Linked DNA regions of Homo sapiens: region 2 is linked to region 1. Evidence: fine-mapped QTL for protein levels in blood plasma. A gene starts in region 1. The other region holds a variant in brackets. All regions are shown on one strand. Distances are between the middles of the regions.

Region 1 (4,396 bases):
TACTGTTAAAGTAACTGCAAAACAGTTTTAACTGAAATATGAAGAAATGAGAAATCCAGGGTAGTTTTTAAAGCTTTCATGAAACATAGCATTTCCCATATAGACTGAACAGATGTATGGAGATGTATAGAGTTTTAACAATGGAAACTAAAATGAGATTATTCTCTTTCAAAAAAAAAAAAACCTGCTGAGCTACATAACTTGGTTTTAGTCAGAATCTTGGGTTAATGGGCAATGGTTACATGCTTTTCATTTTCTGTCCTTGACTTCTTGTAACTGATACTTGGGAGGGTGAGGATTACAAAATTATGGCTATGAAGTCATGCAAATTACAAGTGGAATTTTACTCTATGTAGCTAAAAGGACATATAAAGTGCAACTAATAACAAACCTACAAGATCTGTCCCTAGTGGAAACATTAAAGAGTAAAGACAAAAAACCACACAGTTTGGTGTTGGGCCTAATCCTTAAGTGTAGTAAAAAAATAAATAAATAAATAAATTACGTGCTTTTAACTAAGACAGAGAGTTACCAAAAATGCACGGCTGGAATCTTTTACATAAAAACGCTATGAAAAAGTAAGATGACTCTGTGGCTTCCCCTGCTACAAATCTACACCACTTCAGGTGACGAGTACACTGATATCCATAGTCTACTCATCATCAGATAACATAATGAAATTTTGGTTTCCCTGCAAAGTCCAAAAGTCATTTAGTAAATTCCAAATTAAGGACATACCAAGAAAGAAACTGATAAGATGGCTAATAGGAATTTACCAAGACAGTCAAATACTGTCAGCTGAAACTGTGAAGCCATCAACAATTGCTTGATGGTCTCCTTGGGAGATGTGTTAGTACTTTAAGCAAGCAGGAGAGAAAGATACTGATGTAGGAAAAAACAAGATCCAAAAGCCTATGGGTCAGTTCAGGTACATGGCAGAACAGCTAAAATTTGCTGGGAACATCAGCTACAGTTTTAGGTGGAGGCCCCAGAAAGTAAATAAACTCAGCTTAGGGTCTCTGGAACCAGTGACCCAGGTGTCCTCTAGAGTAAAGGAAAACAAACAAGCTGGCTTGGGACCTTGCTTAGGACAGCTGTTTCAGGAGCTGTGCTCCTTGTAGATAATTGGAAGCCGCTTCTGCAAGGAAACTAGCAGCAGAAGCCTGGTGCCCCTGTGGTACTGATGAAACCCCAGAAGCCTTGGTCTCCTACACTCTGAGCTTCTGAGTCAGGGTGAACTTCAATAGGAAAGTCACTTAGGGGACCTAAAGGGCAATAGGCTGCACACTGCCATTTCCCGAAAATAAATAGTAAATTGTCACTGTTCCAGATATAACTGCTAGATTGAAACGCACGATTTCTCCTCTCACTCGTAAAAATAAATAAATAAATAAATAAAATTTAAATAAACGTCTATCACCCAGGGAAAGCTACTCTTGACTCCTTCCACCTATCAAAATTGCCTAAGAAAGGTTGAGTCTGACCAAGGGGCGGCGCAGCTTGCAACTTTCGCCAACTCCGGGATGAGGCACCGCATCCTGGTACCAGAGGCTTGGACACCAAAATGACTTCTCTAGGGTGCAGCAAGGTGAGCCACCTGGCTTATCCTATCCCCATCAGCACGCGTCCCACACCTCTCAGTCCCATTCCGGAAATGGAGCTCTCTCAGGACTGGATACAGGCAGGAGACCTCCCTCCCCAAACAATGCATTCAGCCCGAGTTCACATTCAAGATTCAAAAAGAAAGGGGAAAAACATAGAAAGAACAATAACAATAGCAAACATGATTTTTTTTTCAGTTAAAAAATAAAATGAGTCTCTTACCATCTCGCCTGAGGTTGGCGTTGCGCAAAGCTTTGATGGATGCGCTCTGCGGGGTTGCAGAAGTGTCCCGACAGCTGCAAAAGTTTGCGCAGATTAGAGTGTAGACAAAGATGAGCCGGTGCATTTGGGATCAGCGACTAGAGACAGCGTCGCTCCAAGAAAAAGCCGGGTTCTGCTCCCGGGACCGACGCCGCGCCGCCCTGCGCTCTCGCCGCCTGCGCTCGCCCTGCGCTGGCCCGGGTCGCTGTGCTAATCGCCGAGCTCTCCCCAAACTTCCTGCATGCTGAACTTTCCGAGCGCGTGTGGGTGCCGCACTTCCTTGTGGTGCTGAGCTGATAAATGGTGACGGGACAAACAACAGGTTGACGTTTGTTTGTTCGCCCCCTCCGGTGGCCGGCAGCTGCAGCACAGGCTGCAGGGGGCGGGCAGCGCCGAATCTAGCGGGGCAGGCGAGCGGAGCAGCAGCGTTCTCCAGCCCCGGCCGCGGCCCCTGAGAGGCGCGCACTCGGGCTCAGAGCGGCGGCGCGAGCACCTCAGCTCCCCAGTTTCCCAGGCCGGGCCTAAACCTGCTCTGCCACTGAGCATGCCCAGTTTAATCGCCGGCCGGGACTCTTCCCACCGCCCTGGGCTTTACCCTCCTGGTTGGACCTGTAAGGGCTCAGGAAACAAACTCGCCAGGAGGAAGTGGGAGAGGGTAGAATCCCAGCACTTCTTCAGAGGTGACTGGCACATCCACCCACAAGCCACAGCTCTCCGCCTTGATGGTGGTGGGATGTGGGGACAGGGACTGGAGTTGGGAGTGTTTATTTTACAATAACCAAAATGAGACTCTACTTAGTTAAAATTTCACTGTTTATAGTGAAAAAATACAATCACAAAGGAGCTTAATTCCGAGCTTTTCTTTGAGCTCCCATCAGTGTGACCTTTGGGTGAGTCAAGGGTACCTTTTCAGGGAATAAAATAAAAATAAAAGTATATCACCCAGAGAAAGCTACTCTTGAGTCCCTCCATCTATCAAAAATGCCCGAGAAAAGGTCGAGACTGATGGAGGGATGGCGTAGCTTTCACTTTTCGCGAACTCCAGGATGAGTCAGGGCATCCTGGTACCAGAGAGTATTGGACACCAAAATGCCTTTTCTAGGGTGCAGCAAGATGAACCACCTATCACACAGGGCTGTAGACGTGATGGGCCATGTGGTGCAGTGTACAATAAGGGCAAGAAGTCTTCACGAGCGTTTTTATATGCACTAGCTCCAGCCCTTCCACAGGAAAGGGCAACAGGACAGAGTGGGGTTGAGCAGGAACAGACTGAGCAAGGGGAAGAAGTTGCAGAACACTGTGCTCACTTGCCTTCACAGTCCATAGGAAGAGGCATGGGTCGTTGAGGCTTTTGGGATTCTCCCTACTCTGCGTCTGGAAGCTCAGCAGTTGAAAGGGGCTGCCTCTGGTTTACATCGTGTGTCTGTCTGCCCATGGGAGGGGACTGTATTTGGAAAAGGAATGAGTCCAGACTCGCTGCTCACTGGCTTTGTCCCCTTGAGCAAATCATCTGATCTTTCGAAACTCAGTTTATTTATTTGCAAGAGTAGCAATTGTTAATTTGTATGGTTGTGGTGAGAATGATGTGAAAAAATGTTTAGCATATTGTTTTGTTTGTAGCTGAATCCAAATCCAAATTTATATGATTTCTCAATTTTCCGCTGATGAGATCTAGAAGAGAAAATTTTCAGTCTTTTTCAGGCCTTCCAGCTCCTGAAAGTCTGGCATATGGTAAGTGATATCCATACATAGGGAACTTTAAGTGGCTGAGAAGGGCAGGAAGTTCTGGAAAAGGTAGCCTTGTCAAGTTATTATACCATCCAACAAGGACGAGGGTTCATGTGTCCCTTCAACATAGTCAAAGATCAACATGTTTCATCTCTATTGGCTTTTTGGCTTAAAATGGTATTTTACAAAATTTAGGTTTGTGGGCCATGAAATCAACTTCAATACCAGAATAATTGTTTAAATAAATGGATTGGAATACAATAGTTTAGAAATTTAATTATCAGGGTTCATTGGAGATAATAATATTGTTTTATGAATATTTTGTTTCAGATACACGAACACTACAATATAATAGTTATTTCTTTGGGGCATGATCAAAAAAGTTTGAAAGCCCCTGGAAAAAAAGATCTAATTACATTGTTTCAGGATATAGTGAAACCCTGGGAGAGACACTAAGGATCATTTATTCATTCAACAGGTATTAATTAAGCATTAGTTTTTCCCCTTGTGTTATGCCCTGGTCTAAAAATCTTGGGGATTAAATTGTGAACAAGAAATAAAGTTCCTAATCTCTTTGAGTTTACATTATAATAGAGGAAAGGGAACATAAACAAGTAAGTATGTAACTGTGTTAATAAGTGAAAAGGGGTAGAGATAGATGGGATAGGAGTAGGGACTAATTGAAATATGTGATATCGTTTTTTAGAAGTGGTTGGAAATGCTCATTCAATTTCATACTTAGCTTCTGATATGAGACTATAGAAAAACGGAGAAAATTTGCAAATGACTTATAATTATGTAATTA
Region 2 (4,396 bases), 160 kb before region 1:
GAATTTCTGAGTGCTGGGGTTAGAGGAGCATCTTTTTTTATTCATAATAAGCCCCCTTCCAACCATACCAGAATTTATCCTAATGAATAAATTCATTGCCTTTTGGAAGTACCTGTTGGGAGGCCCCGAGGTAGCTTCAGAATGGAGGCTCATCACCAGAAAGAACAAGACATGATTAGAGAGTTGTAAATTTTGGCTCCACCCCTAGACCTCTGGGGAGGGAGAGGGCCTGGAGATGGAGTTCAATCACCAATGATTTAATTAATCGTGCCTTCACAATGAGACTTCCATCAATACTCTTCTAGGCTGGTGAATACATCCAGGTGTTTCGAAGGTTGCAAACCCAGAGAAAGCACTCTTTCCATACATCTTGCCTATGTATCTCTTTCACTTGGCTGTTCCTCAGTTGCATCCTCTATAATAAACTGGTAATAGCAAGGAAACTGTTTCCTTGAGTTTTGTGAGCTGTTCTGGCAAATTATTCAACCCAAGAAGAGGGTTATGGAACCCCTATTTACAGCTGGTTGATCAGAAGTAGGAGAGGCTTGGAAGCTGCAACTGACATAGAACATGGAGGCAGTCTTGTGGGACTGAGCCTTAACTTGTGGGATCTGACACTGATTCCAGGTAGTGTCTGAATTGAATTGAATAGGACAAAACAAGCTGGTGTTGGAGGATTAACTGCTGTGGGAAAAAACCCTCACCTCACAGATTTGGTATTGGAAGTGTTCTATGGGCAGAAACAGATCATGGTACCCTCCACATCATCACCTTTAATAATCTTTTAATAGCGTCTTTTTCCCATGATTTTTTAGGCACAGAATATTAGTTCTTTTTTTTTGAGATGGAAAAGACGCAAGATCAGCATTAGTTTATTCTCTTTGTAAATATTAACTGGCTCTTCCTTAATGTATTCATCTCTGCTTTCTGGCATACATTACCCTCTATGGTCCTAGAAAGTAATAGTCAGTGCTGTTATTCTCAGCAAAATAGCAACATAATAAAAGCTGTCAGCATAATAAACATGCAACAGAGGACAACCAAATTTGAGGCCCCTCTTTTTATTATTCAAAGGAAAATAAACCCGCTGAAAGGATTTAGCAGTTCAGTAGTTCATTGGCAATGCAGAACAAGTGTGTGCAGTAAAGTACAAAAAAGAAAAAAAAAATCTTCCTCAAGTCTTATACATGCTAATTAAGCGAGTAAAATGCTGTGAGCGGACATTCAAAGAACAACAGTCCAGGCTTTCTTTGATAAATATGCTAAGAAGAGAGAAGATTATCAGACACAGCTTTCATCTTCTACTTGTGACCCAGAAACTGCAAGAAACAGACCCTTCTGAGGAGCACAGGGAATCTGGGGTGAGCTTTCTCTTCCTTCCCACCCGTATCTGAGGCCTTAACACTATGAATTCGGGGTCAGGCCCTGATAGCTTCCCCAACCATCATCTCCCAGTGCTGGCGTAATTCATTATGGGTAGGAAGGCCTGGGTCAGCGGGAGCCGGGCAGGGGTTTATGCTCCCTAAGCCCATGGCAGGCTTTGACCACACATGATGCAGCTGCCCGTAACCTGGGATGCTGGATACCTGTGCATAAATGCTGCTCTGTGCCTGGAAAAGGAGAGGACCTCCAGATTTCACCCTTCTTTGGAGGTCACACAGTCCTGACAGTTGCACAAGTGAGTTTCTGTGAGTACTGCCAGGTTATTCGGCTCTCTGCCTCAGCAGTCTACGCTATCTTGTCTGTTAGGGTCTTTAGGCTTTTTGAAAAAGAAGCGACACATGTTGGGTCCATTTAAAAGGCTCAAAAGGAATGTTTGATACGATGCTTTAAATTCATCTTTTTCTTTTTTCACCTTGAAATAGTACCGTAAAAATTTTTTTCCCAACTTACCTACAGATATCATTTTCTGCTTCCTCTAATCCAAACTGATTGTCAAACACTAGCTGTATCCGTGTATTCTCCTGAGAGTGAAGCCGCCATGTCAGGAGCAGGTTCCTGGGGTAGCTGTTCGGGAATCTAGGACTCTGCACGTAGCCGTTTCCTTTCACCTGGATGGTCTCATCTCTTCGGTACAAGTCTGTGAGGTGATTGCTCTCTGTTAGTAGTCACAACTTGTAGAAATTAGTATGTTGCTCCAATTACAGGAAAGTCAAAAAAAGAGAACAGTTTACAACACATCATACTTCAAAACACTTCTTTATTTTGCCTAAAAACATTAAGTCTAAATGCAAATAAACAAACTTTTTTTCTCACACTGATGGCGTAGCAATCTATGTCCAGTGACTAGCATCTGAGATACTCAATAAAGACTGCTGAGTGAATGAATGAGTGAAAAACAAAAGAAAAGACTCTAGTGATGTTTAATGACCCTTTATTTTGTATTCAATTGATATTCTCCGATGGGTAACCTTCTGCCTTCTATTAAACAAACAACACATCTTTCTTCTAGTATCCCCCACCTCCCTAAATTCTTCACAAATCCACCCTTGATGTCTGTCTAACTTTGTACTTTGGG[A/C]GTTCTCTTAATATCATTCTTGACAAGCAAAGACTAACAACAATCTCAGAACTTCAGTTCATTTAGTATGGATTAGAATCAGCAAATAATTTCATCCATCCTTCCACCACGAAAAATCATAATTTTGTGTCTTGGGTTTTCTATGAGTTAAAATAGGTCCAATTCTTACTGTATTTTCTCTATGCTGTTAGCCAGATAAAAAGAATTTATCTGGTTTTTGTACTGGGTTCTTGGAAGAGAGTTTCCAAACCCTTGGAATTTCTCACGTCATAGAAATATTTTTGTTATTCATGATATGGCCCCCGGGACCACGTCTGAATTTATGCTAATGAAGTGACTCACTGTGGGCCCACAGATAACTTTAGGATGGGGGTCGGCCATGCCAGATAGACCAACCATGTGATTAAGGGTTAGGGTTTGGAGCCATTATGACATTCAACCTGATCTCTCTCCCAACCTCTGGGGATGAAAGACGGATTGAAGATTGAGTCCACTCATGTTGATAATGATTCCATCAATCATGACTGCATAATGAAACTCCAGTGAAAACTCTAGACACCAAGACTTGGGTGAGTTTCCCAGGTGGGGATACACATTGATGTACTAGCAGGCTGATGTGTCCCGAGGACACAGAAGCTTCATGCTTGAGACCCTCTCAGACCTTACCCTATGTGCTTCTTTATTTAGCTGGTCCTAATTTATATCCTTTATAGGAGGACTTTAATTTTAAGTACAGTGCTTTTCTGATTTCTGTGAGTTGTTCTAGCAAATATCAAACCTGGGGGTTTATAGGGACTCCCAAATTTATAACCAATTGGTCAGAAGTGCAAGTGAGCTGGGGTCCCCCAAACTTGCAGCTGATGTCTGAAGTGAGTACCATATTGTGGTGCTTGTAATTTTAACCTGTGGAATTTGGCCTAACTCCCGGTAGTTTTCATCAGAATTGCATCATACAGTGGATCCCCTTTTCATCTCTCTCAATATTCAGAGTTCATTGCATTTTGGATTTTGGCTTTTTAGGCCCCACCATAAACAGACCTCCAGCCACAGTCTATTTATGTTATCCTGCAGAGAGTTTACTTTGAGGACTATAATTCAGTGAGCCTGGTCAGGGAAGCTATGCTTGCTGGTGGAAACCACTGTAAGGTAGGGTTTCTGAGGGTGGCTGTTAGAGCTTCCAAAAATAAGACAAAGAGGATAAGAATTGGCATGTGAAGTACAAAAGTCTCTTTTGCAAGTGATTTTGCATATGGGAATTTAAACTTTTTTTGGACTCATTTAATGTTAATGTGTTGCAGCTTGTTCAGCTAGACTTTGTGTGGGAGACAGAGTCGTAGGAAAAGCAACGGGTAGTTGAGGGATGTCCCCACTCCCTGCCTCCAGATGAAGGCAGTGGCCTGCAGTCATGGCAGCACTTCCAACAAGGACAGCAAGCAGACAACTTCCTAGGAGACGAAAATCATTTCTGCTCGTTGAGTCTTTTCCCTTCCCTTGATCTTATGCTTAAAGATCAGCTGCGAAAACTGGTGTCTGCTCATTTTGTCATAAGGGGCTTTTAGGCAATGGGTCTTGATATGGTTTGGCTCTGTGTCCCCACCCAAATCTCATCTCTAATTGTAATCCTCACATGTCAGGGGAGGGACCTGGTGGGAGATGACTAGATCATGGGGTGGTTCCCCCATGCTGTTCTCGTGATAATGAGTGAGTTCTCATGAAATCTGATGGCTTAAAAGTGTGGCGGTCCCCTGCAACCCCTGCCTCCTGCTGCCATGTAAAAGGTGCCTTGCTTCCCCTTCACCTTCTGCTATGATTGTAAGTTTCCCAAGGGCTCCTATGCCATATGGAACTGTGAGCCAATTAAACCTCTGTTCTTAATAA

Evidence for each region. A credible set is the group of variants that fine-mapping cannot tell apart. PIP is the chance, under the fine-mapping model, that this variant and not a neighbour inherited with it causes the effect. Protein levels are from the aptamer-based SomaScan assay of Sun 2018.
Region 2: its variant is the best candidate, but not a certain one, in a credible set for the plasma level of the PDGFD protein (Sun 2018, PIP 0.66).

What each region holds. Positions count from the first base shown.
Region 1 is chr11:104,161,980-104,166,375 of GRCh38, forward strand. PDGFD (platelet derived growth factor D) reads right to left here and starts at 2,168. Exons shown (of 7, transcript NM_025208.5): 1 at 1,825-2,168. The coding sequence starts at 1,948.
Region 2 is chr11:103,998,158-104,002,553 of GRCh38, forward strand. PDGFD (platelet derived growth factor D) reads right to left here. Exons shown (of 7, transcript NM_025208.5): 2 at 1,894-2,098. Among named protein-coding and RNA genes, the nearest start is that of DDI1, 36 kb to the right of the region's middle. The variant A/C (reference allele first, on the strand shown) is at 2,519.